Homo sapiens: one gene and its partners. The protein of the gene in region 4 purifies or fractionates together with the protein of the main gene of each other region. This does not show direct contact. Each region holds a gene or a part of one and is shown on either strand. Other genes may lie near its edges.

What was found.
Region 1: the proteins of DEFB106A (region 4) and SERPINB7 purify together in Homo sapiens (affinity purification with mass spectrometry, with the first as the bait; one large-scale study listed by BioGRID). This does not show direct contact.
Region 2: the proteins of DEFB106A (region 4) and CEMIP2 purify together in Homo sapiens (affinity purification with mass spectrometry, with the first as the bait; one large-scale study listed by BioGRID). This does not show direct contact.
Region 3: the proteins of DEFB106A (region 4) and PCYOX1L purify together in Homo sapiens (affinity purification with mass spectrometry, with the first as the bait; one large-scale study listed by BioGRID). This does not show direct contact.

The regions. Positions count from the first base shown.
Region 1 is NC_000018.10:63,773,317-63,779,130, forward strand, and holds the start of SERPINB7 (serpin B7), read left to right. Parts: upstream 1-2,101; 5' UTR 2,102-2,400; intron 2,401-4,464; exon of another isoform or gene 4,465-4,509; intron 4,510-5,814. UniProt on the Homo sapiens protein: Might function as an inhibitor of Lys-specific proteases. Might influence the maturation of megakaryocytes via its action as a serpin.
Region 2 is NC_000009.12:71,764,604-71,770,363, forward strand, and holds the start of CEMIP2 (cell surface hyaluronidase CEMIP2), read right to left. Parts: upstream 3,911-5,760; 5' UTR 3,754-3,910; intron 1-3,753. UniProt on the Homo sapiens protein: Cell surface hyaluronidase that mediates the initial cleavage of extracellular high-molecular-weight hyaluronan into intermediate-size hyaluronan of approximately 10-5 kDa fragments.
Region 3 is NC_000005.10:149,359,897-149,365,122, reverse strand, and holds part of PCYOX1L (prenylcysteine oxidase 1-like isoform 1 precursor), read right to left. Parts: intron 2,487-5,226; coding exon 2,280-2,486; intron 1,088-2,279; coding exon 913-1,087; intron 1-912. UniProt on the Homo sapiens protein: Likely to have oxidoreductase activity. Required in the mevalonate pathway to regulate prenylation and enhances the bactericidal activity of neutrophils.
Region 4 is NC_000008.11:7,823,101-7,828,782, reverse strand, and holds the start of DEFB106A (beta-defensin 106 precursor), read right to left. Parts: upstream 3,645-5,682; 5' UTR 3,607-3,644; coding exon 3,558-3,606; intron 1-3,557. Other genes in the region: DEFB105A (beta-defensin 105 precursor), read left to right, coding at 4,945-5,014, 5,360-5,401. UniProt on the Homo sapiens protein: Has antibacterial activity. Acts as a ligand for C-C chemokine receptor CCR2.

The DNA of each region.
Region 1 (5,814 bases), on a different chromosome or scaffold from region 4:
AAATGACATCAGCTTCCAGGGAATAGGTTTATATCTTTTAGGATGTGCAAAGAATATCCCTAATTTGGAACATTAAGTATTCCCAGGTCATTTCCATTTTCTGGGCACTACACTAAATCTAGCACCCCTTACCATGCCCTCGCCATTAGTATTCGGTCACCAAAGAATTCTTATATCTTCAGCCTAACTACAGAGCTCTATGTAACCAGAGTTCACAGCCTTCTCTACTGACACCTCGTGTAATCCTGAATTAATCCCTAGTAGTTTCCTTAAATCCCTCTTCAGCCCTGGGTAAGTGAGGACAAGAGACAGTAAAATGTAGGTTATTACAGTTCATGTTTCCTCATCTATATGCATGAACTGGCAAGGCCAATGGAAATTTGGATTATCATTGTATGGCAAGGGAGAATAATTAATGTAACACGCCAGTCCACATGACTGCTTTCTTCTCATACTTATGTCACTTTGGGATTGGTTAATTGTAAATCAACTGTTGCAAACACAGTAGTGGGAGGGATGTCTGAGTTAATGTGAAGAAGAAAACAATGGTGAGTAGAGCCTTAATTATGGATGACTCTTGGTAATTCCAAGAAGATTATCCAGTATGTGTGTCACGTGGGTCCCTTGCCTTTTACCTATTGACCATTTCACCACTTGAAAGTACTTTATATCCTCAGTAGGTAAGAAATAGAAAGGATATGGGATTCAAAATATTCAGCCTATGAACACTGCAATTAGAATATGGAGAACAGGGAATCCATTTGTAGGCTCATTTTTTTTTTATATTAACAACAACCTTCTCCTTCAGAAAGTTCACCACAACTGCTAAATCAAAATTAAATTTCAGGGATTTTCTGCAACTTTACTTTTCTCTATGATTATTCTACTCATAAACAATCATGGAGGTGAGCAATAACTACTTTATTCGATTTTGGATAAGTTAACAGGACCCCCTTCTTCCTGGGAAAGAGGCAAAATTGCACAAAATTGAGAGGCGAGCAACTGTAAGATGATGGTACCTTCTAATTCCAATAGCTTTTTACAATAGAGAACCCAGTTACTTGGATAAATGTTGGCTGTACTTTTGAAAACACTCAGGCAGAAGGACCAGGCTTGCAGTCATTTCCATGCATAGCAGGTGAAGGTAGGTGCAACATACAGCTCAACCTCATGATGCTACGGCCAGAAACTGAAATGTGTTTTTGCCCCTGTGTGGCATGTTCTGATGGCAAAGGTGTAGGCAACCAACTGGGCCCAACCTACCTTTCCCTACACCTGGTCACTTTTCAAAGTGCAAACCCACTTTAACAAACTCTAGCCTGTATTATAGGAGGAAGGATCTGGGTGGTGCAGACGTGGCTTTCCATTGCCAGATCAGAAGGGTGGAGGAGAGGCTGGCAGGATGACAAGAATGAATGAACACACCAAGTTTCAGCTCCTATCTGAAGCTGCTCAGTTCAGGTAAGCATTTAGAGAAGCCAGTTGCAATAACTAACAGGGCAAATGTTTCTCTGGAAAATTCCAAGCCAGAGAAAATTGAGAAAAAGAGGGAAGGATGGAAAGCAGTACAAAGAGAAGCCAGCTCAAAAGGTTAGAGGTCCAGATGAAAATCTGAGATTGGAGAATGATAAAAAACATTGTGTGAGATTCTATTTTAGGTCATTATGCTAGGGAAATTTACACAGGATAGGGTTGAAAGAAATTAGGCTATAAGATGAGTGGCAAGTTGCAATAAAATGGCACCCTAAACTCACCAAGTCACTGTTGTCACTGCTATCTTGCCTTAGTTGATTTGATGTCTAGTTAGTCTATTTGTGTGTTTCTCACAGAAGAGTATGTTTTGACCCAGGCTGACAGATACTGTTGATTCTGAAATTTGTTTTTATGGTTATGTTAAAACCATTGTCATTATAAGAAACAGAGATGGGAATATTGCCTCCTGAAATCTGATTCACATACAAACTGAATGAACTACATAACAACCACCTTAGTCAGATACTATTTTGAAACCTGGTTCAAAACCTAAATGCTTATAAGATTCTTGAGAGACAGTGCTGTGCTCTGAGTCATAGGGAAGCCATCCCAGAAGCCAGGTCTACTCATCAATAAGCAGCTGCCTGTGCAGAGTGCAGGCTGCACCTTTGGACAGCCTTTAAAACTGAATTCTCAGAATTTTAGAACAAATTTTTGTCTAGAAATGCTGACTTTGGTTCATTAGGTAGTGGTAAAACAGGCTCCCTTCGAAGCTCTCCTTCATCACCTTCCTAAGTGCATGGGGGAAAATACCTAGGGCTCAACAGTCTTGAGAAGTGTGGAAACATTTTCTTTGTGAGTGAGAACAGATCACCTAGAGAAAGGAGACCAGATTCCCATCACTGCTTCTGGGTATCAGATGCTAGCGTGAGTACACTGTTGATTTGCTTATCCAATTATTGATTTACATTATTGCTCTTATCTTCTGTTGTAGGCAAGAGGTAAGTTCACTAACGAATCTCAAGGAAGATGTAAATGGCCAATGATCATGCTCAGAGGCCTGAAATCTCTCCAGGTCGCCTCCTTGGAGGGATGCTTTTCTGGTGGGGCAGCTTTTATCACCATACACAAATGTGCTTGGGTTTGGATTCTGCTGGAGAGAACACTGTGACCCGTGGTCTCTTCCTTGGGCCATGTCAGTCAGTCTTGGACTTATTTTGCATCCTATTCTTTACCTCACTGATGCCTGTGTATCCTTGGCTTGGTGTCCCAGCCCATTGTCCATCAAAACCTGCTATCAGGAATAGATCAATTATCAGTTATACACAATGCGCCATGACCCTATCCCAGAGGCATTAGGTCATTTGGCTTCATGTTTTTTTTGTTGTTGCTGTTGAGTTTTAAAATAATGAAATATAATGTAGCTACATAAAGATGAATTCAATAGATGCATACAATTTAATAATAGAACATCACCAGAACCTCTAAAACCTCCCTCCCCATTCTTTCACCAACAAAACCTCCCCACCCACTAGGGGTAACTAAAGCAGTTATATCCGTGGCTTAGTCTATCCACCCATGTAAGCATCCATTAAAAAACAGTTTTGTCTGGTTTGATCTTTTCATGAAGGGCATCTTACTGTGTGTATTCTTTCGTGCCTGATTTATTTGCCTTCTAAACCTTACTTCTATCAGTGGCGTGGGAGCTGATGGCTACTGCTGTGGTGATTTCAGACAGTCTTGAGAAGATGAGGGTAGAGTTTTGTGGTCAGAAACCTTCTTGTGTGCCTTAAGATAGTGCGAATTGAAAGACCATGTCCTGGTATGAAGCATAGTTTTTGGGTATACTAGATAAACCAAGGTCTGTGAGAAGCTCTGGTAGACAAAGGGAAGAAGTGGGTCCCAATGGACGTCTAACAAGGACTGGGGGGTTTAAATCATTAAGACTATGATAATTTTATCCACAGTTGATCTATAAAGTGTACTATGATATACTTTTCACAATGTAAGCTTTCTCTGGAGTTAATAATTATCAAATTTGCTCATTTTTTGGATATTTATTTGGTTTCTAAGTTCCTATCACTAATGTATTTCTTTTCTGATGGGGGTAGATATCCCTCTCCATGTGTTCAATATATTCTAACGCATCTCTCTCTCTGATAGCATATTCACCTTAGAGAGCTTCAAACAGTCAGCATACTCAATTTTAGCATTAATCATACAACGAAAATAAAGGCAGTATGGGCAAACACTTGTGGGAAATAATGTGTAAGATAAAGTCAGAAACACTATGTGAGGTACAACCCTACTTCTCTTGAGAGGGACAGCTCACCTGCCTCCCTTAAATACAATGTTCCCCAAATACAGCATAAATACCATGTTAGTGATTATACACATACATAGCAACACACACATATATATATGTGTGTGTGTACTAATGAAAATGTAATTGGTGTGAATTTTTATTTTATGGATGAGAAAAGGCCCACTCTATTCTATAGCACTTTGCTTTCTTCACCTCTCTGGGACTGCAGTGCTACTCCTCTATGACAGTTGAATTTATAGATGTCAGAATATGAATTATTCCAGGTGGGGCTCGGTCATATTCATCAAATACCAAAATCAGAGCAGGGAGGAATCAAATAAACAATAACAAAAATCAGTAACTACATTTCCACATGTAAGAAGTGCCAGTTGTGCCTTAATGTAAGGATATCTAAATTTACTACATAAAAATACTATGTGATACTAAATATCAAATGAAATAACATTTCATGCTAAAATTTGATTCATTAAAAATATCTATTTGACTACTTTGAATTAGAGCTATAGCTAATATTCTACAGACTTCTTTTAAATTGCTCTATAAAGCATCTGAATATATTTATTTTAATGACATTATTTAAAACTATCATGGCCATCATAAAAAAAAAAGTAGGGAGTGTCTGAGTCAGAGGCTTTATATTTCAGAGTAATGCAAAGAACTCTTTCAGACTCACCCAACCAGCGGCCAACTTCCTCTATGAAGACAGTAAGGTAAATACTTCTGAAGTCCATAATTTAAAGTCTGGCCAGATCCTTTGAAAAAAGACACACACACACACACACACACACACACACACACACACACACACACAGACACAGAGAGAGAGAGAGAAATAAATCTTGGTTACTTTGTGTCTGAGACATTAAACTCATCACACAACATCCAGATCGGATAATGGTCCTCTTGTCTGCTTCTCCACCTTACAGCTTGTCTATGACTGATTTAAGTGGTGTCATGGGAGAATGGCATGGGAATCGGATGCCAGCTGAAAAATTTGTGTTCCATCTTTGAAGAGATAAGTAGGGATTATGTGCAAATCTAGATTCTATATTTCCTGTGTTCTTATTTAAGGCATTATAGGTTGGAATATACTAGATTTTGAGATTAGAATTGAACTCTTTTAAGTGCATAATATACTAATTTGATTAGAGGTTGATCAAAATTTGAAACTATGTTTTTAAAAGAAATACAAAGATTTTAAAATATTTCTTCCAAGAGTATCTGTATAGCATCGTATTTGACTTATTGATAAGAATAAAAATTAATCACATTCAAGGGATTATTCATTTCTTTCCTATATGTATATCCTAATTCAGTAAATATAAAAGCTTTTTTAAAAAATAATGTGTCATGAACTATAATTAATTTTCTATATACAGGCAAAAGTATCCTAAGACTAGATAATACTTTTATCAAGCATTTAAGGCACATAATTTATCAGTTAGGTGTAATAAGTTTAGGTCCATAAAATAGTATCATAACTTTATGTTTTATTGAATGTGTTTTGTGCCTGAATTTTCTTATGCTTTATTTAAAAACTACTTTTTGCTTTTTATTAAACTTTAAAAAGAAGGTTTAGTGAGAAAATATCTATTTTTATTGTTGTTTTGATGCTAATAATATATTAGCTAAAGGATGAAAGGGATAAAAAAGTTCTCAGATTGAAATAGACCATAAGGAATCAAATAGGCTTCAGGCTGCCATGGACTTTTAGACCCTCAAGTCTGAAGTTTGGGATGTAAAAACATCCATGAGTACGTGCTAATTTGTGTTAACTTTAAAATTATAAATTAATTGCATGCTTGTTTGTTAAGCTAAAATATTTATGCAAGAAACATAAGAATATAGTATATTTTTAGCAAAATGAAAAATCAGACTTTAAAACCAAGTTCTTTTATGATTTGAAAAGAACTTTCCTGCATTGCCATGTCCAGACAATGAAATACTGGGTGGTGTCACACTGACATCTTCTTTAGGTAGCTTTAATGTGGTTGTTTTCCTTTTCAATTTCCTTA
Region 2 (5,760 bases), on a different chromosome or scaffold from region 4:
AGAAAACTGATTTACATTCATTACCCCCCTCCCCACCGCACCCCTGGCAAAAGGGCACAGTTCACTTGATAGTTTTAAATATCTGAGTTTGGATTTCTATCAAAGGCAATTTATTAAAATGTCAGATGGGCTTAAGTCCATTTCAAGTGGAGAACTAAAGCGAGTATTGCTAACAGATTCGCCTAGACAGCAGCTGCTGCTATTGAGAGAATAGACTTTAACAATCTAGATGAAAATTATACCTCTTTACAAATGGAGAAAACTAGTAATGGGGATTTTCATACTCTCAAAAAGGCAGATGCATAGCTTTTCTTCCTTTTTTTTTTTTTCCTTTTCCATATTCATCATATTGAGAGAGAGGAAAACAGAAGGGCTAGCTTGGCTTGGGAGGCAGAGGGGAGAATGGATGTTACCGTACAAAACCAGACAAGACCTTTTCAATTGATGTACTGTACTAGACAGCCCATTCTTCTCACTAATGCTCACAATCCAAGAGAAATGAAAAGATTTCCTGTGGCTGGGATGGGAAGAAGCCTGGACAAGAGAGCAATACCATATGACAGTAACTAGCTTAAAAGTCTAAAGACTTGCTCTCAAGATGGGATTCAGATCATTCTGGAAAGGGCCAATAAAATGAAAATCTGTAGCTGAGACCTGATTAAGCTATGATTTATATCTATTTATAGCTTTAAAAAACTTTTGAAAGTACCTTTTGATACCAGACAGCATTAGCCTGTACAGTACTTTATCATATATTAATACATAGCAAACTTACTCAAATTGAATCCCCAAAACATTCCCATAAAGCATTTTAAAACTCCTTTTTCAGGTGAAGAAACAACGTGAGAAGGATTAGGGGATTTGCCCACAGCAAATGTTTAGCAAGTGCCAAGCCTTGTTTTAAATCCAAGTCTGACTTCAAGTCCTCCAATCTTCACCATTTTAAGATAGTACTTCTGACACTAGTTTTCAGTCCCTACTATTTTGTCTGATTTAACAAATTTTATTTCTCACAAAATTGCTCCCCCACCCCCAACTGTTCCTTCTCTGGCTTCTTAGAGCGTTCTGTGCGTAATTCTCCCAGACATGCACTTATTGGACCTTCTAATTGTTCATTTCCTTATGTCCGGGGCTAGGCTCATTTCTTCAATAGCAGAGATTGTCATCTCTCTAGTTGCAAGTGACACAGGTATCTTCAATCCCTGTGGCCTCCCGGGTTGCAACCACTTCAACTCCTTCTCTTTACCAACATGAATGCTCCACAAAGCAGGTGTTGCAATTGCTTCCAGAGGGTCTGGACCACAATAGGTGATTAATAAGTGCTAGCTGAATGGATGGTGGGTGGGTGAATGATGCAATGCTCATACATATTTTAGAGCACACATCACAATGCACACATTTACATACAGCACTCCATGTGAGTCTAAGACCATGAATTTGGTAGTGATTATTGTTTCTTCTTTTTTTTCTTTTTTTTTTTTTCAGATGGAGTCTCGTTCCCATCACCTAGGTTGGAGTGTAGTGGCACGATCTCGGCTCACTGCAACCTCCACCTCCCAGGTGCAAGCGATTCTCCTTCCTCAGCCTCCCGAGTAGCTGGGATTACAGGCGTGCACCACCACACCTGGCTAATTTTTTTTTGTATTTTTAGTAGAGATAGGGTTTTACCATGTTGGCCAGGCTGGTCTCAAACTCCCGACCTCAGGTGATCCACCTGCCTCGGCCTCCCAAAGTGCTGGGATTACAGGCGTGAGCCAATTGTGCCCGGCCTAAGTTTCCTCTTTCTAAAATGTGGCTTGTCTTTCTCAATTTCAGAAACTTGCCCAAAGCATGTAGCTCTAAGCAGTACCCTGTCAACTTCAAGATAATGGCCCACAAGACTACATTACCCTCCAGCTTGTCTTTTCTTGATAGCTGTTTGAGGACAGCATTGATTAGGCCTATTAGAACATGACTGAAGTGTTGCCCCATTCTGGTTTCCTGTTATGAATCTGACATTTCTGAAAAGTCACTGGTTACAGACTAGATCAAGGAAGGAGACTACTCAAATAATTAACTGTGACACAGAATATCCAGATAAACACCATGTAAGAATTTACAGATTCTATTTCCCTGTCCACACACAGGAGAGTCCTCAGCTCACTATCTCATTCACAGGTTAATAAGAACAGGTGATGACTCAGAATTCGCTTCTAATCTTAGTTTTCTGAGCCTTTAAGCACACATACATCAGAAAAAAACAGCGTCAGGAGGACTGAACAGAAAGCCAGAAGACAGATTTCCAGTTCCGCCCAAACTGATCCTCTAATGCAGGTACACAGAAGCTGGGGGAAGTCATTTCGGTGTGAAGAGAAAAGCACTCTAAAGTGCTACCCAATGTTTACTAAGCAGAGGACATGCCTACTACACATTCTTCTGCTTTGCCCAGAAATGCAAACTAAAAAGAACCCTTTGTATAGGTAATCAGACCCACAACCACAGTATGATACCCAGACCAATTCTGAAAAGAACAAGCGTCCTTCAAGGGTCAAATAAGCATTAGTAGCTCCATTCTAGCCAACCAAAGAAAGATAAGGCTAACCATTTTAAAGGTGTTTTTTTAACACTGAGCCATTTCCAACAGATTTGCCTGGCTGCTCTGGGGAGTCAGGCCTCCCTCAGCTCAGGTGAAGCCTCTACCCTTTCCCCTCTCTCTAAATTCTTCTCACTTTTTACCGGGAAGAGCAGCACATCTCAATACATGCAACTGTGCAGCAGCGCATCACTCTGTCACACTGAATCAAGGGGAGTGAACTCAAGGCAGTGAGTAGCTCATGTGCACAATGAAAGTTTTAAAAATTATTAGGCAGTCTATCCTTAATCCCAACTGCTGATAAAAGGAGATATATATCAAAGTCTGTTTTCCTAACCTGCGGAGAATTCAAGTGAGCTGTTTCCGCTCCAGGTCGAAGTCTGGTGACACTCATCAACCCTCAGCAGAGAGCATCCAGGGAATTCAGGACCTTGGTTTTATCGCTAAGGGTGTAGCCACTAGTGCTATTAACAGCAGCACTCTGGGTCCTCACAGAGAGGGCCCCCCTCCTTTACCAGGATCTCCCAACTCTGCAGAGAAAAGCTGGGAATAGGGTCCAGGGCTAAGGCTATTCCCCAGATTTAAAGGAAGCTGTACACGATTTTAAAGCCTCACCTTACCTCAGCTAACAGAGAGGCAGGGGGCGGAGGGCGGAGGACCCACCAACCCAGGGGAATTGTAAGGAGACAAAGATGACCCCAAACGCACAAGCGCGCGCGCACTGAAGCCCGGACTGCAAAGCACATTCCATCAACCTTTCACTGTAATCGGCTTACTGTGGGGTTTATCCCCTCACCCCATCCCTCTCCAGAAAGTTTAAGGCTGTTCGCACCGACTTTGAAAGGTCCATTGTTCCCTTCCCCGTAAACGTAATGAAAAGAGAGAGTGGAGAGAAAGAAATCAAGACACCGTTCCCGAGGACCCTTTCTTAAGAAGAGAGGACTGACTCCTGGGGAGTCGGGTCAGTCCCAATCCAGAGATGAAACCGGGAAAGGAGGCGCACGGGGGAAGGGCGGGAGGACGTTTTCCTTTTCGGCAGAAATGCCCAACGCCGGAGCCGGCCAGGCCGCCGGGAGCAGAAAAGGTGGGCGAGACCCGGGTCTGCGTCCCCGCAGTGGCCCCCGAGGGCAGCAAACGAGGTGGAGCGGGGTGGGGGGGCGGGTGACCGAGTCGCTTCTTACCTTCCCCTACCCCGCTTAGCGTCCGTTAACTCAGGTGCCTACACAGCGGTCCAGGGAGACGGAGAGGAGTCCCTGGCGTCCTCGGGTCCAGATCTCCTCTCCATGGCCAGGAAGCCACTCGATTGCCGGCGCCCGCAGCTGCCGCTCGTACTCAACTGGCAGCCGCAGCCTCTGCCTGGAGGTGAAATACTCTCCTCCCGAGAGTGACGCGCACTTCCCTCCGCCTCCGCCTCCTCCTCCTCCTCCTCCTCCTGCCCCGAGCCTCGGGGGCAGGGGCCTCGGCTCGCTCTCTCCCGGAGCCGCCGCTCGGCTTTCTCCGTTCCTTCCCCTCCGGGAGAAAGAGGAGGAGAATCGTGGCCCGGGCGGCGCGGGCCTGAGCGTCCCCGCGACAACAGGGGAGGAGGCGGCGGCGCGGGGCAGAGTGGGGTCCCAGGAGTCGCTCTTGTCCCTGGTCGGCGGGCGCCGCGGCTTGCTAGGGTCGCGCTCAGCCTCCGCCGGCCAGACAAGCAGCCCGGCTCGGCTGGGCCGGGAACTGTGGATTGGGCGGGCGGGCGGGCGGGCGGTGGAGAGCGAGGGAGGCGGAGGGAGAGGAGGAGCCTGCCATCAGAGGAGGCGGTGGCCCCGCCCGGCCCCTCCCGCCGGCCCCGCTCCCCGCGAGCTGCGAAAGCGGAGGCTCAGCGCCACTCGCTGCCGCGCGCTGGAACAGCGCCCGAGCGCACTGCCGGCGGGGCAGAGCCCCAGCCAGCGCCCCCCGCTGCGGCTGCAGGCTCCTACCCTTCCTGGGCGCGCACACCCGCCTGGCCGAACCGGAGCCTGTGCCTCCAGCACCCCCAGATAAGGCTGGTACTGCGCCTGTCACTCCCTGGCTGAGCCTGACACTGCGCCCCCAAAGTCCCCTGGCTGAGCGTGACTGCACCCCATCAACCCTCGGCTGCGTCAGACTTTGAGCCCCATCACCCGTAAAGAGATTTCCACACTCCCACAAATGTTCTGAGCGTCCAGTCACAGCCCCTACCTGGCCAGGCGCGAGCGCCAGGTTCTCAGCGCTGTCAGAAGAACCAGCCTGCTCTGGGACACAGGGCAGCTCTTCTGGTCCCTTGGAGCAACCCCAGCATCCCGCTCGCAGGCCGGAATAAATATACTTAGGTCTTCCCACGCCCCCTACCTGCGCCACTCTGGAGTGGCGGCCGCTTGCAGAGGTGGCGCCGAAAGCCACGCCCCGGCCCACCCCAGTGCCAAAACGCCGCTCTGAGGACACCGGCACCGGCCCTGAAGCAGCCCTGCCGCCGCCACCCTGCCCCCTCGCTGGAGCTGCTCTCACAGCCTTGGCTCTGGGTGAGGGCGCGGCCCGGGCTGGATCACTCAGACGCACGAGGTCCCGAGCTAGTGACAGCTGCAGGACTGCCAAATCCGGGCCGTCGTCATCCTCGATTTAATTGGAATTGGAAGTTTTCCCTCCAGGAAACTCTTTCAGTGAATAATATACAAGGTAGGATAGTTTAGTTTTCAGGGTTGTTCATTCCTCCTCCCTCAACAAACTCAGTCCTGTAACCGCGACACACCCGGCAGTGAAGGGGAATCCCCTATTTCAAGGGTATTAGTTCAGGACTTTGTATAAGAAATTACTGTTTCCAAATCTTGGCTGATGATAAGAATCCCCTGGGGCACTTAGAAAAAATTGGATTGCCAGACGTCGCGCAATCTACTGAATCAGAGGTATCGGGAATATGTAAGTTTGGGAAACAGGGCTAGAATGCATCCTCTAATTAATTAAAGCCTTGGAAAGATGCCTCCAAAACAGCAGCGCGAGCTAGTGCTGAGATCTTACAGAAACTTCACCCAGCTGCCTTTGAGAGCCGCTGTCCCTTCTGGGATAGGCAGGGAGGAAAGGTTTTTAAAATAAGGAACATAGTTTTGAATAACAAGATGGAAGGGACAAAAGACTGTTTTCATGGTCCAAAGGTGTTTTGGATTGTGCTTAATAAAGATAGAAACTGTGTCACCCGT
Region 3 (5,226 bases), on a different chromosome or scaffold from region 4:
GAGAATATAAGGAAGAAGTGCTATAAACAGCAGAGTTATAGAATGGGAAGGGAGTGGAGAAGTGCCAGGAACCAGGGCAGGAGGGCACAGGCCACACTTGAGTGACACTGAAGGGAGGCAGACAGTGATGGGGTCCGGGGAGCAGCCCCTGCGCCTTAGGCTGGAAGCAGGGAGCACCTTCAGGAGGGACTTTGGGGAAAGGTGGAGTGACAGCTTGGTGAACAGGGAGGGAACAGACCACTTGCCCTCCACATCTGGGACCAAAGGTGATGGGGAGGGGGCTGGAGCCCAGGGATAGGAGGAGTGGTGAAGAAAGGTGTTTATTCTAGATGGAAAAATGAGGACAACAAAGTTTGCAAATGAGTGGTCCACAGGCTGCATCTGCCCTGCAGAAGTGTTTCATTTGGCTTACAAGATGAATTGGTTGCAAATGTTGAAAAACTGAAAAGATTTCACACACGACTCTGGATTTCCAGCTTCTTCTGAAAAGTGAGTAGATCTAGCCACATGAGGTGGGCATTGTACACGGCTGGCTGCAGATGGCTGCGGTGGAGGGCTGGCTGCCTCCTTCAGAGGGGGCCTTGTTCTGCTCTCTTCCACCTGCTGATTCACTGACTCGCATCCCAGTTCAGCCCTTGTTAAGCGACTGAGTTTGCAACCCATGCTTTTATTAGTATCAGTGTAGTAGAGGGTAAGAAAATGAGAGTCAATGTGACAATACTAGGGAGACCATTACTGGACCAAATACGGCCATTCCTCATGCCAGGGGCTTGCTCTGAGCCTGCACTGAATTGTGCTGGCTCAATTCAGCAAGGACCTTTTCCTTTTTCACAAAGTACAGGCAAGCTGGTTCCTCCCCCACCTCTTCTCGGTTCCCCTGGAACGCCATCCCCACAGCTCTGCCAGCCCTACCTCATGAACTTCTCCATGACCTCCTCCACCCACATCTGCAGCCTCAGGAAGCTGATGCCATAGTGCCACCAGAGGCGGAAGAGGTTCAGCAGGTACCAGTCAGTCTCCTCCAGCATGAAGTGCTCCCCGCCGAAGATGGCGCTCCTGCCCACCACCTCGCGCCGGTGCCTCAGCCCTGCAGAGACAAAGAGGAGCCCCTCAGGTCCCCTCCAAGACTTGGGGCCCTCTTGATGCAAATGGACTGGTCCATTAAAGGAAACACAAATGCTATGGTTTGTTCATTTGTGCTGCTTGTTAATAAACAGTAAACAGATGCACTGGGAAAATGTTTGGACTACCAAGTCAATAAAAAAATGAAAATGAAAATAATGTAACATTTTACATTTTTTTTCCCCAGGAGGATCCACAAGTGAGGGAAATTCAGATTTTATCCCAGAATGTCCAGGGGGTGACAGCCACTGGGCTTGTTTGGAGATGGTGGCCTTGGGCACTGAGATCACTTGGAAGTTATCCTAGCTCCTTACAGCCATCCTGCACTCTGCAACTTGACAGAGCAGTGGACTCCTAAACACAGACAGAGCTGCTATGACTTGTTCCTTCCCCACCCCCACATACTACACACACTGCTCTCCACTTTAACAATACACTGTATCTTGGAGATTGCCCTGTATCTGGGCATAAAGACTTCCCCATTCTGACTGCTGAACAGCCTATTGTGTAGTTATACAATAATTTGTTTAACCCCAGGTCCTAGTGGATAGGCAGCTAGGATACTTTCAGCCTTTTGCTATTACAAACAATGCTGTAGTGAATAACTTGGTATCTATGCTACTTTGCACATCTGTAAGACCACCTGTAGCATCACTTCTGAGAAGCAGAGTTTCTGCATCAAACAGAACGTGTATTGGACAGATGCTGCTGGGTTTGAATCCCACCTCTCGCTGTAATGGCTTTAGCTTAAATCTATACATTTTCTGAGCCTCAGTTGCCTTAAGAGGAGATATAACACTCATCTTGCAGGTTGGTAGAGGGGAGCTGAGGTAATGCCTACATACCACCCAGAAGGTGCCTGGCAAGCACTAGCATGTGGAAGGTGATATAATCACGATTATTTAGAGGCAGCAAATTGAAAGGGAAAGAAACTGGCCTAGGAGTCAAACCTGAGTTCTAATCCCGGCTCTGCAACTAACTCACTGTGTAACCTCAGGCAAGTTCCTTCCCCTCTCTTGTTTCTGTTGCTCCATCTGTAAAATGAGATTGGGCCACATGACCTTCTGGCCTTGATGGTCTGGGAAGTCTGAGAAGGGCCCAGTGCTGTCACCAGCCCCAGGGCGCTGGGCACTGGAGCCCCAGGACTGACCACTCACCCAGCAGCTTGACGAAGTCCTGCATGTGCAGGCTCAGGGAGTGGAAGGAGGCAGCCCCGCTCTCATAGTGCTGCTTGTTGACTGAGATGGTGGCCAAGCGGCCACCCACGGTTCCCTTCTCGTACACGTCGATCTGCACCCGAGGTCCAAAGTGCTGCTGGAGAAAATGGGCCACAGCAGAGCCCCCAATCCCAGCCCCAACCACCGCTGTCAGCAGGCCCGGGAGGTAGGGAAGAAGAGAGACAGAACATGAGAGTGAGAGGCTGTAGTTCACACTTTGTATCCTCCTGCGCTGGTGGTTCCCAGGTGCTTAAATTTCCTAGGCTTATAACATTTCCAAAAGGAAATCTGCGGACTGAGTTGTCAGTAGAGCTATTAATAAGCAAAGGCAAACCTGAAAACTGCTGCCTACTATACTTTCGTTTCATAAAGAAAAAGGTATTTTGCAGCAAAAGACCAGCAAAGAATACTGAAAGTCAGGATGACCAATTAAAGAGAATAAATTTAGTTTTATATAAAACTCACTACCTTGCTTCTAACTTTCTTATTTCCCTATGAATTGTTAAAAGTTACTGACCAGTTCTGTTCAGTGATCAGTGTTTGGAAACCAGGCCTTAATCCAGGGATTGGCAAACTACAGCCTGCAGGCCAAATCCAGAAAGATGCCTGTTTTTGCAAACTAGAGTTTTATTGAAACACAGCCATGATGCTCTTTCTTTCAATTATTGTCTATGACTGTTTTCATTTTAGGCAGAGTTGAGTAGCTGCAACAGAGACTGCATGGCCTGAAAAGCCTAAAATATTTACTCTCTGGCCATTTACAGAAAAAAGTATGCCAACTCCTGGTCTAGTCCAACCTACTATCGGACACCTAAATCATCCTTATGTCTGTGTTTGTCAAGACTGGAATGTATCTGCCAGGCGCGGTGGCTCACGCCTGTAATCACAACACTTTGGGAGGCCTAGCGGGGGCAGATCACCTGAAGTCAGGAGTTCGAGACCAGCCTGACAAACATGGTGAAACCCTGTCTCTACTAAAAATACAAAATTAGCTGGGTGTGGTGGCGCATGCCTGCAATCCCAGCTACTCAGGAGGCTGAGGCAGGAGAATCGCTTGAACCTGGGAGGCGGAGGTTGTGGTGAGCTGAGATCGTGCCATTGCACTCCAGCCTGGGAAACAAGAGCAAAACTCCATCTCAAAAAAAAGAGACTGGAATGTACTCTATGATGGATTGTTCATTACCCTACAGGACACTATATTCCAGTTTGAAATCTTGTTACAAAGTTTCAGCTTTTTTGGGTCTTATCATACACTGTCTTTACTGTACCTCCTGCCTTCCTGTTATTTGTAAACTTGGTTTACATGCCATCACTATTCTCATCGAAGTCACTGATAAGAATGTTTCCTGGGACAGGGCTTGGAGGTGCTGCTAGGAAACCACTGCCTGGACAGACATCAATCAGTTTTTTTTCAAACAGGATCTGGCTCTGTTGCCCAGGCTGGAGTGCAGTGGCATGATATTGGCTCACTGCAAACCTCCCAGGCTCCCAAGTAGCTGAGACTACAGGCACATGCCACCATGCCCGACATATTTTTCGTAGAGATGAGGTTTCACCATGTTGCCCAGGCTGGTCTTGAACTCCTGAGCTCAAGTGATCCTCCTGCCTTGGCCTCCCCAAGTGCTGGAATTACAGGCATTAGCCACTGTGCCTCACCTGACACTAATCATTAAACAGTCCTGTGAGAGAACTATAAACCAGCTATGAAGCTACTGAACTGGACTACCACCCTACCTATAATTTTTGCTCACCATGTATCTGAAACACCACTCTCTTCTCATCAGACAGTCCAGAGGCCTTACCCCAAAAGAAAATTAAATAAATCTGGTGTAATTTGTCCTTACTGGACCCATTTGGACCCACAGAGTACCAGTTCCTGCCAGAAGTCACAGGCAATCCTCAGACAGCACCAGGTTCTCTATGATCTGGCCTCTGCTTACTTATTCCATTTCCTGCTTTACCCTCCCAAGATGCCACCTTCTTGTCTGTCTAGGCTTCTCTTATTGTGGGCACATAGCTTTGTTCTCTCATGCCTGGGCCTTTGTCCGAGCTGTTCCCTTTGATAGGAGTGCCATCACCCTGTGTCTCACTGGCTTCAACAGCCCTCAGATGTCACCTATAACTTGGCTTGACTGACCCACCTGAGGTGAGTCAGGTGTTCCTCCTGCATATTCCCACAGCACACTCTGCTTAGCCGTACTGTAGTCAAGTTATTTAAGGACAGAGAGAGAGTGCATGATCACTATGTCCCCAGATCCTGGTGGACAGTAGAGTTCATGAAGTATTTTTTCTGTGTTGAAAGAATAAACCACTTCCTCTCACAGTACTTACAAAGCCACTTCCAAGACAGCTTTGGATTTTATTTTAACCAGTGTGCTCCCATCCCCTCCATGTGCAAAGAGTCCCAAATTACCCATTTTTCCAGAGAAATTGATATTAAGGCCTAGAAGCTGCCCAAGATCAGGAAGCAGAAGACACCACTTCATTGTGAACCAGCTCATTTAACACAACTGACACCAATTCTCTAATTTACAGTAAGATGTCCTGGGGCACAAAGAAAAATCAAACAGGCTTCTGTCCCCCAGGACCCCAGCATGGAATGGGCAGACAGACTCCTGCGCAATTAGCAACGACAACCCATGATGAAGTGCAACAGGGTTCCAGGGAGTCCTGAAGGGGAAGCAGTGAATTCTGCCCCAGAGGGTGTGGGGACACAGCCTTCTTGGGGAAATAAGATTTCATGCAAGATGCTGGAGGACAATCAGCTTTGTCAGTGAGAGGACACGCACACTCTGCAAAGAGACCAGCATGAGAAGGGCAGCATATGGAACTATATGGGTGGGTTTAGAGGGTCCTGATGCCACTTGGGGGTTCTCAGATTTGGTCC
Region 4 (5,682 bases):
TGGATTAATTCCCTTTTCAGACATGTATGTTTACCAGATACAGTTGTATGACTACTTGGTGAAGATTTTTTCACAAGCTGTCATAGTGCCATATCCTACCGGTAAATGAGATGGTAGGGGACCTGATTTTTATCTGATATTTCAGTCTCATAGTCACACAGGGTGAAATACCGGAAAGAATACATTTGTCTTCCAGCATTTGAGACCAAGCTGTGTAGGAGCTTTGGGAAACGTCCCTAAGCTATGGTTCTTTAATCGAAATCTGTTGGGGATAATTATCAACTTGTTCCCATAAACACTCCCAGAGGCTGCTAATTTTCCTAGTGCACTCTCAGAGGCTGCTACTTGGTGAGAGTAGAGCAAGAGCTGAGACTGAGGAGATAGCTCCAGACCAGAGCAAAGGAAGGGATAAAGATATAAAAAGAGAATGAGTTTACTGTGGTAGATAGAAACTTGCTTGGAAGGCTCAGCCTGATTTCTCCTCCATATTCACCAAAGCAACGACTGCGGAAAACTTGTGCTTTAGAGAAGGAGGGTGCAGCATGTTGGGAATGTTTTTCTAAGATTTTCTCAGTTCATTTTGCGGAGAATTCCAGTTCCCACCTTAGGGCTTTATCAGTAGCAGTCCCAAGAGCAGCCTGCTTCAAGTTAAGGACAGACAGCACGTCTTATCAGGATCAACATTTTAGAGCTGCCCAATTTGTGTATATATAATGAAGGCATCAGATGTACAGAGATTGCATTTAATGTCTATACTATAATGTATATACATTTAATGTCAACATATAAAGGTGCCTAATTCAAATCTACATAAAACTTACAGCCAGGTGGATTAGTGCCAGCATATGCACTAATGATTATCCAGGATCAGCACATCAGTTCATAAGTGAAAATACTCCACTATTTCAAAGCTCGATGAACTCTGGCTCTCACTGGCAGGGGTCTATGTTCTCTCTGCCCTACTGTAAGGCAGATACTAATATAATACTATACTATAGACTATAGCGTGGTATTCAGATAAAATCTTTTTGGTTTAGTATAGTATCATAGTATAGCTTAGTATATACTATAAAAATACTAGTATTATAGTATATACTGGTATAATAGTGTATACTATAGTATTATACTAGTATATATACTATACTATATACTAGTGTGTTATAGTAGTATATATACTATATACCAGTGTATTATACTAGTATACTATACTATATACTAGTGTATTATACTAGTATGTACACTATACTATGTACTAGTATATAATACTACTAGTAATAATATAGTATATATACTATATTATCATACCAGTATATATACTATACTATATACTAGAGTATTATACTAGTATATATACTATATACTAGAGTATTATAATAGTATATACACTATACTATATATTAGTGTATTATACTAGTATATACACTATACTATATACTAGTGTATTATACTAGTATATACACTATACTATATACTAGTGTATTATACTAGTATATACACTATACTATATGCTAGAGTATTATACTAGTATATACACTATACTGTATACTAGTGTATATATTAGTATATACACTATACTATATACTAGTGTATTATACTAGTATATACACTATACTATATACTTGTGTATTATACTAGTATATACACTATACTATATACTAGAGTATTATACTAGTATGTATACTATGCTATATACTAGAGTATTATACTAGTATGTATACTATACTATATACTAGAGTATTATACTAGTATATATACTATATTACATACTAGTATATAATACTACTAGTAATAATATACTAGTATAATATAGTATCTGGCCAGGTGCAGTGTCTCACACCTATAATCCCAGCACTTTGGGAGGCTGAGGAGGGTGGATCACGAGGTCAGGAGTTCGAGACCAGGCTGACCAACACGGTGAAACCCCGTCTCTACTAAAAATACAAAAAATTAGCCAGGCAAGGTGGCACATGCCTGTAATCCCAGCTACTCAGGAGGCTGAGGCAGGAGAATCGCATGAACCCCGGTGGCAGAGGTTGCAGTGAGCTGAGATTGTGAAACTGCACTCCAGCCCGGGGAACAGAGTGAGACTCTATCTCAAAAAAAAAAAAAAAATATGTATATATATATATATAATATATACTAGTACAATACTATATAGTATATAATACTAGTACAATACCATACTGTAACATCAGTAAATAATTATAGTATATACTATGCTATACTATAATACTATACTAAACCAAAAAGATTTTCTCTAATACTATTGTATTATAGTATTATACTCTAGTATATCTAATAGGTAATTATTAGATTATCTAATAATTATATAACAAGCATTATGTAATTATAGATAAGTATCTGTAATTACATAATAATTATAGTAACTAATTATACTTTTATAATTATAGTATTATCTAACAGATAATTTTATAGTATATAACATCTTTTTTTTGACTTATTATATAATAAGTATGAGTGATCTGAAAAAGATACCTCTGGCCAGTTTCGAACGTGCATATCAAAACCAGTGGCCTGAATACGGCATAGGTCACTGTGGGTCCTAGATCCTCATGTTTTGACACAGAATCTACTCTCACAGGCTTGTCACAAAACAGACCAGAGCTATGAGCAGCTGATGTGAAAAGTTGAGCATCATACCTGGGATCGTATATCACTGGTATCTGGCAGAAATTGGGAGTTACTGTGGGCTCTGAGAATCCCTTTCTTCAGCTCTCTGGAGGCTCACATGAGCCTGGTCTTAAGCCTTAATTTTGAAGAGGATACAATTGGAGCCACTGGAGATTCCCAGGAGCAGGAGAAAATGAAGAGAGTTTTGATATGGGAAGGGTGTCTTTAATGCCTCTTACTGTGGCAAGACAGTTGGGCTCCTACCCTGGCTTTGTTTTGGTTATCTATAAGACTCTGAGAAGCACTGAGCCCATCTGAGGCACAATTTCTGCATCTGTAATAAAATTTGTAAAATGGACCTTCAAACCCAAAAAGATTTTCTCTAACTTCCATTAAATTAGGGGTAAGACAGAGTTTTCCGTAAAGGCGCTGGCACTGGAAGACTAGATGCATTTTATGTGAAGCTCTCATCACAGTACTTGGCTTGATGATATGTGATCAAGAAATGGCAGTCCAAGTTACGCTGCTTTACCTGTTGCCATGACTGGCATGAGTGCATAGGTGTCTCTAAGCTCAGATCCTTACCTGTCCCTTCTCCTTACCTGTCTCAATCTCTACCATAACTACATTTTAAAAGGTTCATAGACTGCTATCCTTGTTTTTAATTTTTTCTCAATTTTTGTTTTTGTTAGTGAGCATGAGATGGGATGCCAAAAGGCATCTTTCCTGGCCTTCTTTTATTCTTTCAAACCTGTGACAGCCCCTCCTAGATAACAATGTAAAATGCAAAGGAATTACAGAAGAGGCGTTGGGGAATATCACCTCTTGTAGTAGATGGGTTGATCACGCCCAGGCATTCACTGAAGGGGACCCTGTCTGTGGGACACCACCTCCGATCACCTTCCCTGTAAAGATGCCCATTTTACCTGGGGTCAGAAAGAAGAGCACGGCAAAGAGAAAGAGGAAAGTCCTCATGACTGGGTGGGTCTTGAGAGATCAGCACCGTGTCCATGAGGAAAGAGCCGCAAACACCCACATTTATACATTTCTCCAGACCAAGTAACATCTTGATCAGTGAGGCTTAGCAGAAACGAGAGGATTTCCATGCTCTGCTGCACAGAGCCCACCCAACCTCAGTGGGTGTCACTCAGTCTACAGCTCATCATATTTCTGATTCTGGAAAGTTTTGAAGAAGGAAAGTGGGGATGAAGGGAGGACAGAGTAGGGCAGACACAGAAAAAATAAAAAAATCTGGAGTCCAGTAGTTTGGTTTCTAATCCTGGCTGTGTTCCTGAACAGCTTTGGTTTACTCATATGTAAAATGGGAGTAATTATACAATATCTCAATGCTTCAGTTAAGAGCTGAGGAACCGTAGTGAGGTGGAATCTGAATTCCAGATTCAGTCTTTTTGAGCTTTGTAAACTTGGCAAAGGGCTTGACCTAAGCATATATTTGTTAAAAAATGTGAATCTTGCTGTATGCTGCACGCTTTTCGTGCTTGGTCCTGCCATGCTGCTCACCTGTACCATGGCACTGTTGGCGCAGCAAGGAGCTGGTAACCATCATGCCTTGCCCTAGACACCTGGGCTCAAGCAATCTACCTGCCTTAGGCTCCCAAAAGCTACGATAATAGACATAAGCCACCCATCTGGGCCAATATTCATGTCCTTAATGAATTTAAAATATGCAGTAATTATGGCTTTGGTGCGTGAGGTGATATCTTACAGGAAAGGGGACTCAGAGCTAACTTGACAAAATGATTGCTACCCCTCCTTTTCTCCCTGTGATACTTGTAGAGAATAAAAATGAAAGCTAGAAAAGTGAGAGTCCACATTTATTGAGTTCTTACATGGTACCAGGCCTCCTTCCAAGCATTCCACATATTCAAAACACTTTTGCATTATAATCATACTAGATTCTTACAACACCTTTAGAGGCAGGCAGAATTTGCAAGTGGGTTCTTATTTTCTCCCAGAAAACAGAAGCTGGAAGAGATGAAAGGGGTCACTATCTTCTGGCCCCTGCATTAGTATGGTGGAAACTCACATGGCCCCTGCTCTTTCAACCTCTAGCCTGGTGTTCTTTCCACTACACCAGTTAGACTCCCCAAAATAAAAGGCTTTCTGGATGCCAAGGGTTATTATCCATGATATCATCCCTTTATCCTGGGAAATGGAGCATATAATTGTGTTTTATTGATTCACTTCACGGATCAAGAGCATCTCCCCATTACTTTTAAATAAAAATGAGCCTCTCATTTGGGTCTTCTCAAGGAAATCCCAATCTCTATTCCGAAGAGTCTTCCCTAAAAGATGGCCCTGATCAGGAAGACATTTTATTTTCTATTTGCTATGTTCTTCATTTTGGTTCAACTGCCATCAGGTAAGTAAAAATGGATGGGATTTTGATTGGGCAGATTATAAAGCCTGTTGATTCTTCCATGTTTGACCTTAATGGTCAAGCTCTCATGGCACCTGTCATGGGAATTTCTTAGACCTACAGTGACATTTACTAAGAGCAAACAGCATATAGTGTATTTTTTTTTTTTTGTAATTTGTTTTTGCTGGTTACCTGGAATGCTGGCCTTGAGAAACAGAATAAAGATTGCAACTCTGTGATCTACTGTCTCCTGTTATGCTATGTCACATGTGAAGTTGGGAGTGTTTTATACAGTGTTAATTCCTGTGTTGATTTTAATTTTCAAAATGTATTTTGTTTTGAATTTAGGGTGCCAGGCAGGACTTGATTTTTCCCAACCATTTCCATCAGGTAAGTTAAATCTCTTGTATATAATTATTTTTTCTCTTAGGAGCTCTGGCGCTGTTAGCTCTCTCTGATGTCTGGAGGCAAAGAGGGGACAGAGATAGTGGCAGAAATAGAATTGTCTGAAAAATCAGTTCACTAACTTATCTCCTTCTCTTTCTCTTGTTCCAAGTATAATATTTGGATATTTTTGATTTCACAGAAAAATATCTTTGTGACTGGACTGTAATTTGGCCATAGAGATTTGGACTCAGTGGCTTTTCCCATTAGCTGTTGGTGCTCACTAA